Linked DNA regions of Homo sapiens. The protein of the gene in region 1 interacts with the protein of each later gene in a biochemical or structural test. Each region holds a gene or a part of one and is shown on either strand. Other genes may lie near its edges.

Region 1 (4,834 bases):
TGTGGGCCACCAGGATGTGAAGGATGTCCAGGTAGCAGGGGCTGGGGCTTCTGGACAGGCTGAAACATGGGCTGCCAGGGGGATGCCTCCATTCAGCTGAGCGGGCAGCTGGCTGCAGCATGCTTTGTCCCACCCTGCAGTTTGCAGTGGAACAGGTGCTCCAGGAGGAACACTTTGATGCAAGCCATGTGGCCCTTATGGGTGGTTCCCATGGTGGCTTCATTTCCTGCCACTTGATTGGTCAGTACCCAGAGACCTACAGGGCCTGCGTGGCCCGGAACCCCGTGATCAACATCGCCTCCATGTTGGGCTCCACTGACATCCCTGACTGGTAGGCATACACCACAGGTCCCTGCCCTTCCCTCCTCTACCTCAAATTCTCATGGAGCCCCGTAGCCCCAGAATTCCTGGGGCTGCAACAGCTCGGTGTCTTGCAGGTGCGTGGTGGAGGCTGGCTTTCCTTTCAGCAGTGACTGCCTGCCAGACCTCAGCGTGTGGGCTGAGATGCTGGACAAATCGCCCATCAGATACATCCCTCAGGTATGCAGCCCCCTCCTTGCCCTGTGTGCTGCCCATCCATCCAGAATCCAGGGCCCAGCTCAACACAGCTCCCCACTCTTCCCCAAACACCCAGGTGAAGACACCACTGTTACTGATGTTGGGCCAGGAGGACCGGCGTGTGCCCTTCAAGCAGGGCATGGAGTATTACCGTGCCCTCAAGACCCGGAATGTGCCTGTTCGGTGAGTGCAGCATGAAGGCCCTGGCAGCTGGTGGGCAGGTGAGCACAGGAGGACCCTCCAACCTTAAATGTTGCTGACTAATCCCTACAGGCTCCTGCTCTATCCCAAAAGCACCCACGCATTATCAGAGGTGGAGGTGGAGTCAGACAGCTTCATGAATGCTGTGCTCTGGCTACGCACACACTTGGGCAGCTGAAGCCCTGCCATTCTGCATGAGCTGATCAGCCTGTGCCACACTTCGCTCTTGAGGAGCTCAACGGTCTGGCAGGGCAGCAGGAGGCTTTCTGGGCTCTGGACTCCACGGATGCGTGGGCAGAGGAATGTGGGCTATGTAGTCATAATAAATTAGGACACAGAGCCTGGTTCCTGCTGGTACTTTGTACCAAACCATCCCCAACCCCACCTCCCACTCTGGGGTGCAGAGACCCTAGGTTCTGGGTGTGGCAGCCACAAGGGCTTCATCTGCCTCCAGTGTGAGAAGGGAGGGAACAGTGAGAGGCTTAGCCTCTGCCTGTCCTGGCAACCAGGACTCTGTACCAGCCTAGCTTCCCTGCTGCAGCCCCTTCCATTAGCAACTACTCTGTACCACCCTTCCCAAGAGTATGTCTGGAGGACTAGTGTGAGGCCCTGTCTTTCCACGGCACCCATGGGCAAAAGTAGTCCCAGGGACATTGCCTTGGTTGGGGAAGCCCCTAGGCTGGACAGATCACCTAGCCCAGGGTGTGCTGGGCTCAAGCCACCCGAGCCCTAGCAAGGAGTCACTGACACATTTCCTGGAAGCAAAGGCTAAGAAGCATCTGTACAGGCATAAAGAGGAAACATGGCTTTATGTCTGACAAGAAGTTTTGTCCTCCCCAAGGCATATGGCATCAAGGCTGGGCCTAACCCAGTCTCATGACCTTGTGAATCCAGTCCACAAACACAGAGACACGCGTGAAGACAGCTGGCCAGCGGGACCTTGCGCATACTCGGTTGGGGATTATAATTCCTTCCAGGACCCAGCAGTTGTGGGTAAAGCAGGCAAGTGGGCCCCCGTAGTCACCCTGGCAGGTAGGAGAACTGATGAGGGCCCCGGGCCACAGCAATGACTAGCCTGCTTCATGATAAAATAGTTCATTTCTAGCCCCCCATACCCTTCCAGGGCTGGCCCAGGGCCCTGCCACCAACCTCACAGGCCCCCACAGGGGCCAACAGTCCCTCAGTGCACATCTCACTCTCCCGCACACGTCCTCGGTGCTTGATGTTACACTCCTGGTTGGAGATGACATTCAGCAAGGCCACATTTAGGACTGTGTCATTACCCGTACCTGCAGTGAGGGGAATGGGGAGAGGGAGAGGGTCCTGCAGGAAGATCCAGGGCTGGGCCTCCTGGCCACCAGCAGTCCTGTGCACTGTGCTCTTACCTTTGGTCTCACCCCAGCCTGCAATCTCACACTTGGTCCCTGGAGGCACCACATACCATTCAGGGGGCAGGCAGATCAGGGCCACACGCTGGTTCAGGGTCACAGATCTTTAGCAAGAATGGGGGCACTCAGGGTCTGAGGCCACAAGGCCCAGCCCCACCTCACACCCTCCCAGGTTGTCCACATACCTCTCCAGCTTGAGCAGGACAAGCTGGGAGCCTGAGGGCCCACACACCATCTTGGCTACTGGGACCCGCTGTAGGCTTGGCTCTCCATGCTGTGGGTTCTGGAACAGGGTGCCCAACCATACCTCATAGCCCGTGAGAGGCATATGGCTGGGAGAGAAGCTCTGCTAGGTCATTTGTGACTCTCAGTCCATTGCCCCAAGGCTCACTTGTTAGCTTGCCTGGGGAAGGGGGAAGGTGGGATGAGACTGGGTCCCCAAACACAAGGGAGGCTCACCAGGAGGAGAAGCACTGCCGGGCAGTCAGTATCCACTGCTCCTTCACTAGAGACCCCCCGCAGAAATGCTGGCCCTGCCTAGAGGAGTGGGGAATTAGGACAGGTAACAGACTCCTGGGACAGATGCTAGACCTGCCATCTTCTGGCTAGGACCTCTGGGGGCAGGGATAGATTCCCAGCCCCCAGTGGGATAACCACAGAGGACACAACCTCAGCTCCTCTCTGTGGGAGACAGGCAGTTGTGCCTCACCGATTCCGCAAGCTGACTGTCCAGGGTGAGTTGCCCGGATGGCCCCCAACCACGCGCAGCTTGGAACGCCGCTGATCCAGCCGATCCACCCTCTTGCCACACTTCTCAAACTGCACCTGGTCTGTAGGATGGGGTGGGCTGGATGAAACCCAGACTGTGTGGATGTCGTGGGCTAAAGGGCCTGACCCATAACTGGCCCAACTCCTAACCTGGGGGGTCCAGGATTGATGGCGGCTGGTCATCAGCTGAAAGACAAAGTTCACTGGGGTTAAGGGAGCCAGCCTTTGGGTGGGGGCTGAGGCAGGGTCATGGGGGAAGCGTCACTAGTGCTCACCGCAGCGTCGCAGGGCACAGTAGTCGAATGGGGTCCTTGGGTCCATCGTGTAGCACCAGGGCCCATGGCTATCCCCATCTGGGTTCCGGCAGAAGTTCTCCTCCAGTTGTGCATGCGGTTCGGAGGTAAACGTGAACCTAGGCGGAAGCGGGAGCAAAATCGTGGCAGGGTAGTCTCAACCATTTCCAGGCTCTGGTCCCAGACACCAAAGCATGCCGCCCCAGGGTTAGGGCCCTGGCGGGGCCGGGAGCACCAGGGACTCACTGCGGCTTGTGCGGCGTCTCAGCGGACCAGCGCTGGCACTGGACACCCTTGCGGGTCTTGCTGACCGTGCCGCGGTACTGCTCCCCTGCGCCGTGGTAGCAGTCTGTGGCGGGTGCGGGCAGCCATCAGGCCGAGACCTCGCCCCGGCCCTCCGGTTCCAGGCTTCCAGCCCGGCTCTGTAGCCCCCAAGCTTGGGCCTCACCCTGGGGCCGCACGTCGTCTGTACAACGCCGGATCTGGTAGCAAAAGGCCGCGCGCATGCCGGGCCGCAGTGTGAAGCACCAGGGCGCCTCTGAGCCGTCGGGGTTCCGGCAGAAGTTCTCCCGAAGGTCTCTAAGCAGGCGCTCCACTCAGCCCTAGCCCGCCAGCCTCCAGCCTTGAGCCCGTGACTACCTTCCTCCCGTCTCACCCGCAGCAGCACGTCCCAACGCCCGCCCCCCCCCCCCACCTCACTTGCACGCGTATTTTTCTGGCGTAAATCGGTGCTGATGCGGGATTTGCGCGTCCCAACGCTGGCAAGGTACGCCCGCAGTGGTGGTATTGGCTGTGCCCCGGTAGCCCTCACCCTTCCCGCGGAAGCAGCTGACAGTTGTGGCCTCTTGGCGGGGCTGTGCCTCGGACCCTTAGATGGACCGAGATAGGTCGGGCCCCGAGCGAGAGCTGAGATCCCTCTGGGGCTGGGACCAAACCCGCCTTTCCCAGGTGTACGGTACTCCACGGGGTATGCTCTCAGGTCACGCCCAGCCCCTCTTACCTCCCCGGCCAAGCCACGCCCCTCCCCAAGGTTCCCAGGTACCCTCCCAGGCCTGGTCCCCGCCGCCTACCGCAGCGGGGGAGGTCACAGAACTCTCGCTCGATCTGCGGATCCGTAGTGTAGCACCATGGCCGCTCGGAGCCGTCAGGATTCCGGCAATAGTTGTCGTCCAGACCTTGGTCGAGGAACCTGGGGGCGGTAATGGGGCGTGAACAAGACCCTGGGACTCTGGCTTATCTGGCCCCGCCCAATTGCCCTACACGGAGCCCTGCCCCTGGAGTCCTGGACCTTCCCTAGCCCGGCCCCCAGGACGCCGATACCGCCTACGCGTACTTGCCCGGCTCGAAGGGGTGCTGGTGCGGGTGCTGAAGATCCCAGCGCTGGCACTCGCGCCCTGACTCCGTGCGGTCTACCGCGCCGCGGTATTCCTCGCCATTGCACCAGACACACGCGGCTGGAGACAAAGAGCCAGTGGGTTCGTGGATGGACGTGGGCTTGTCCCTCCACTCTCCCAGCTTGACCCGGCGCCGCTTACCCTCCCGGCAGGATTTGATGCCGCAGCTCTGGAAGCGCACAGCAGGGTCTGTTGTGTAGCACCAAGGACCTCCGGGGTCGCCATCAGGGTT
Region 2 (4,932 bases), on another chromosome or scaffold:
TGGGGGCCACATCCTGCCAAACAAATAGATGAAAATAGAAAAATCCTGCCCACTTTCTGGATAGTACGAAGATCCAGATATTGAGTGTGCCATCCAGCCACACAGTCGTACTCTTTTGGTTTCTTTGAGATGTGGATTGAGGGTGTCTAGAGTCACTAGGTTCAGGACAGGAGCTTCTGGACACCTCGGCTTAAGCAGAGCATGTTCTGTGGTGCCAGACACGGGGTGGAACTTCTGGGCTGGAAAGTTGGGGAATGAGGTGGAGTCCCATCATCAGGGAGGTTGCCGGGATGAGTGGGGCTAAGCTGGGTGGCGGGAGGTAGCCGACAGTCAAAACCAAGAATGGCAGCCCCCCAGCACGTTGGTTGCCCCCAAATTCATCTGGACCTAGACGTCTTGACCCCCATCCCCACTCCCCGCTGCCCATTCTCTGCTCTGGGTTCTGCCTGATAGCATGAGTGGGGCCTGCTTCTTCACTCTGTCTGCTTCACTTCTCCAGAGCAGGAGGAGGCAGCGGAAGAGGATGCTGAAGCAGAGGCTGAGACCGAGGAGACCAGGGCAGAAGGTAAGTCTCTGGTTGAGGGTGCAGGGGCCTCAGGGGGTGGCGAGAGCCCCTGGAGCCATTCCTGAGGCAGTAAGAAACCCCCCAGAACAGGCTTTCCCATGTGCACCTGACTCTCCTATTGACTAAGATTCAACCATTGATTGCCCAATCAACAAACGTTGACCCAGCGCTTCTCTTGTGTCAGGCAGTCTTGGGTCCAGGGGAATGTGTGTGTGAGAGACAGCTCTGTAACCCCAAAAACCAACAGAGTGCATCTTGGCTAGGGCTTATCTGTGGGGAAGGCTCTTGCTGGTGGCGGAGGGGGGGACTTGAGCTCAGAACAAGGACCTTGATTGATTTCTCGTGTTTCATTTAGAAGATGAAGAAGAAGAGGAAGCAAAGGAGGCTGAAGGTAAGGATATCAGGAGAGAGGTACAAGGGAGGCAAAGGAACCCCTCACAGCAGCTTTGGAGGAGAATGCCCACAGTGCTCTTTCCAGGGAAGTGGATGTGCACTGAGAGGGTTTGGGAGAGGAGAGGACAGAACTTGGTGGCACTTCCAAAGTTTTAGATGTTGAGCTTTCAACTTTGCCCCTTCTCCCAGAGAAGTTGCATTGGTGGCACCCAGTGGGAGAGGGGACCATTGTCCAGCCCCCTGGTCTGGACAGAGCAATGGGACCCAGAAGTCATATCCACACATGAAGCTCCTAGAGCTTAGGTGAAATCACTTGTAGGATGTGGTGTCCGTAGGATGAAATCCCAATGCATAGATGGTCATGGTGGGTCATTGCTGCAGTCATCGTCATGCTGCAGCCTTCACCAGGGTTCTAAGTGGTCCCAGTCACTTCTCCAAAGGGGAGGGGACAACCAGCTGGGGCTTGGAATCATGTCATCAGCTTCTGCCCTGTGGCCACCGGGAAGTCCAAGGGGTAACAAAGAAGGCAAAGACCTGGGAGGGGATTCTAGGGCCAGGACCCTTGGGGACCTTTCCAAAGGCCTTGTCACTGTGAAGCACAAGAGAAGCAAAATTGCTTTGCCCAGAACTGGTGAGTGAGAGAAGGCTTTGTGTGAAGTTCCACACTGCGTGAGTGTGTGCCCTGCAGAACTCTATGGGAGGGGGAGTGTGGCATCTGCAGCCCCCGCTGCCTTCATTCTCCTGGATGCTTCTGGAATCAGGGCTCCCCAGTGCCGGGAGGGACTCACTGTGCAGATGGGGAAATGGAAATCCACAGGGATCTAGCTCATCGAGGGCGGAGTTGGGACCACTTCTGGGGCCCCCTGACCCATGGCTGTGTGCTTCTATCTCCTCCAGATGGCCCAATGGAGGAGTCCAAACCAAAGCCCAGGTGAGTGGGGAGGCACCTGGGTAGAGCCGGGAGCAGAGGCTCAGGGAGAGAGGATGATGATGGAACGGGGTGCAGTATGGTGCAGTGGACACGGGCTGGGGGTTTGGTGGGCACAGAGCACCACAGTACAGTTGTACAAGTTGTGTACTGCACAAGCGTCTCTTCCTAAGGGAGTGAGTGAGGGCTGAATTCCACCCAACACTCCATCACCAATCGTGCACCCTAGCAGGGATGGGGCTATGTTCTTCTAGAGGAAGGGCCCTGAACGGACACTCTCCTCTCTCACAGTATGGCCAGAACACCCTCCTCCATGGCCGAGGTGGGACCTTGGGATTAAGGGAAGCAAATTGTGGGGAGCCAAACAATGAAACCGTGCCAGCATAGGCATGGCGGCTTCAGAGAGCTGAGAGAGGGCAGGACGGCTTGGTGCCACACACGTGAAGCCCACCTGAAGGTGGTGTGTGCTGGGGGGGGCTGGGGGATAGGGAGCATTTCCCTTTTTATGATGCCAACCCTGCCAGCAGAGGTTGACCCATGGCACCTCTGCCCACTCACAGGCTCTTCCCATTTCAGTGGGGCCTTCTGAAACCAGCCCAAGACATCCCAGATCCATTTATTTGCCCAGTGCCTTCCCCCTTCCTGGCCTCTTGTGCACTGCGGTATCTCATTTCAGCTCCACACACCTGAGGGCAGATGGGGACATGAAGAATCAGAGAACCCCCTGGGTCTCAGTATGTGTTGGGACCAGGACCAAACTGCAAGACTCCCAGGTTCATGGCCAGTTTCTGCGGGGTCCACCAGGGGATTTGAAGTCCAAGAAGCATGGCATCTTGTCACAGCTTCTTTGATTCCAAGTTGTGTGGCTTTGAGCAAGTCATTCTACCTCCCTGAGCCTCAGTTCTCCTAAGTGAGATTAACGGTACCCACTTCATGGGCATATCATGAGCATGAAGTGAAATAGCATATGTGAAAGAGCTTTGTGTATTCCCAGGTGCTGAGCAAGGCTGAGGACTGCCATTGTTGACGTCAGTGTTACTATCATTGCTGTGGTTGGTCGGGGCAGTGCTGGAAGATTCTCTAGGAAGGATCAGGGCCCTGCCTGTCCTGGACACCCTCAGTCCCTGGGTCCAGAATGGGGCTGATGCTGACTATTCCTCTCTCCAACAGGTCGTTCATGCCCAACTTGGTGCCTCCCAAGATCCCCGATGGAGAGAGAGTGGACTTTGATGTAAGCGGTGGCTGTGGGTTGAGTAGGCCTGGGCTGGGGATAGTCCCAAGGGCCCTCAGTGACAGAGATTTTGTGACCTTGGGCTGGGGTAGAGCATAGGTGGGATGGGGTGCAGCACCAGCCAGGCTGGGTGCCCATCCATGAGCGTGGTCCTGGGTTCAGGCCACAGTTACCCCTTCCCTGGCCAGGCGCCAGGCCCTGCCAGAGGTCTTTTGCACTGCGTTGGGGGGTGTCTAGCCCACCCATCTCTCCTCTGGACTCTTTGGAGTGGCAGCCTCTGAGCCGCAGCGGTCCACCCACAGGACATCCACCGGAAGCGCATGGAGAAGGACCTGAATGAGTTGCAGGCGCTGATCGAGGCTCACTTTGAGAACAGGAAGAAAGAGGAGGAGGAGCTCGTTTCTCTCAAAGACAGGATCGTAGGTGTCCAGTCTGCCCACCTAACATTCTCTGATGGCCCAGTCTGTCCTCCATCCCTTTTGTGAGGCCCCACCTCCTCCAGACAGCCTTCCTCGGCGCCTCAAACCCAGCTAGGTGTGAGGTCTCCTTCAGAGGCCCTCCAGCATTCTGCACAGCTCCTGCAGCCCTGACTGGTTTCTCGGGTCCCTGCCTTCCCTCCCCATCCTACTGGATGCTCCTTGACTGCCAGAGCTGAGTCTGATCTGTTTCAGGCCTCCCCCAGGGCCTAATTCAGGCCCGGGCTGTGGACTGATTGGTCACAGGCCTGCTGCGCCACCCCTGCCCTTGCCTCCTCTTCCCCCGCAGATGAAGGGGAGTGTGACCTGCAGAATCCCACATCCTTCTCCTGCAGAGCGTGGAGGCTGCTTTGATTGCTTTTGTTTCTCCCCATCAAACTTGCCTTCCCACAGACATGCTGCTCTGGCTGGAGCAATGACTTGGCCATCTATCCAAGCATATGGCACAGAGCAGCTGCCAGGGCAGGGTGGGATGGAGGTGGGGGCAGAGCCCAGAAGGAGCCTGCCTGATGTCTCCCAGTTGTGGAGGGCAGTCTCACCATGAGGAATGTTGGAGGTGGGTCACTGCAGGTACCCTGGTGTGCACGTCCGTGGAGCTGGTTGAAAGTGGAGGCCCTTGGAGGCCGGGCACCATTGCTTCAAGACTCTGGAAGGAACCCTCCCCCAGGAATTCCCTTGCCACCCCATGCAGGTTTCTGTACCTGCGATGTCACCTTCTCCCTATGCACACCTGGGTGGGCTTTGCCTCTTCTCCTTAGGAGAGACGTCGGGCAGAGCGGGCCGAGCAGCAGCGCATCCGGAATGAGCGGGAGAAGGAGCGGCAGAACCGCCTGGCTGTGAGTGACCCCTAGCCCAGGCCCATGGAGGCCCCCCATGCTCCCAGCTCCTGCTGGGCCCCCAGGCCCCTCTCTATTCATCAACATGAATGAAATCAGTCAAGAGACAATATTGGCCGGGTGCGGTGGCTCACGCCTGTAATCCCAGCACTTTGGGAGGCCAAGGCGGGTAGATCACTTGAGGTTGGGAGTTCGAGACCATCCTGACCAACGGAGAAACCCTGTCTCTACTAAAAATACAAAATTAGCCAGGCGTGGTGGCACATGCCGGTCATCCTAGCTACTCAGGAGGCTGAGGCAGGAGAATCGCTTGAACCCAGGAGGCAAGGTTGCAGTGAGCCGAGGTCATGCCATTGCACTCTAGCCTGGGCAACAAGAGTGAAACTCCAACTCAAAAAAAAAAAAAAAGGAAAAAAAAGAGACAATATCAATATCAACCTAGGAAGTGCTGGGCATTGTCTTGGCTCTGATAATACATCAGCAAACAAGACAGAAATGCCTGC

Evidence for each region.
Region 2: of the proteins of MST1 (region 1) and TNNT2, one has a biochemical effect on the other in vitro, tested with the Homo sapiens proteins (one study listed by BioGRID).

Annotation. Positions count from the first base shown.
Region 1 is NC_000003.12:49,682,406-49,687,239, forward strand, and holds the end of MST1 (hepatocyte growth factor-like protein isoform 1 precursor), read right to left. Parts: coding exon 4,744-4,834; intron 4,663-4,743; coding exon 4,542-4,662; intron 4,398-4,541; coding exon 4,279-4,397; intron 4,077-4,278; coding exon 3,908-4,076; coding exon of another isoform or gene 3,903-3,907; intron 3,788-3,902; coding exon 3,657-3,787; intron 3,558-3,656; coding exon 3,455-3,557; intron 3,328-3,454; coding exon 3,191-3,327; intron 3,102-3,190; coding exon 3,066-3,101; intron 2,978-3,065; coding exon 2,857-2,977; coding exon of another isoform or gene 2,817-2,856; intron 2,685-2,816; coding exon 2,607-2,684; intron 2,551-2,606; exon of another isoform or gene 2,480-2,550; coding exon 2,333-2,479; intron 2,252-2,332; coding exon 2,145-2,251; intron 2,049-2,144; coding exon 1,909-2,048; intron 1,785-1,908; coding exon 1,623-1,784; 3' UTR 1,542-1,622; downstream 1-1,541. Other genes in the region: APEH (acylamino-acid-releasing enzyme), read left to right, coding at 1-31, 141-331, 438-540, 635-741, 832-937.
Region 2 is NC_000001.11:201,363,795-201,368,726, reverse strand, and holds part of TNNT2 (troponin T, cardiac muscle), read left to right. Parts: intron 1-499; coding exon 500-565; intron 566-920; coding exon 921-956; intron 957-1,855; coding exon 1,856-1,889; intron 1,890-3,056; coding exon 3,057-3,117; intron 3,118-3,419; coding exon 3,420-3,536; intron 3,537-4,351; coding exon 4,352-4,429; intron 4,430-4,932. UniProt on the Homo sapiens protein: Troponin T is the tropomyosin-binding subunit of troponin, the thin filament regulatory complex which confers calcium-sensitivity to striated muscle actomyosin ATPase activity.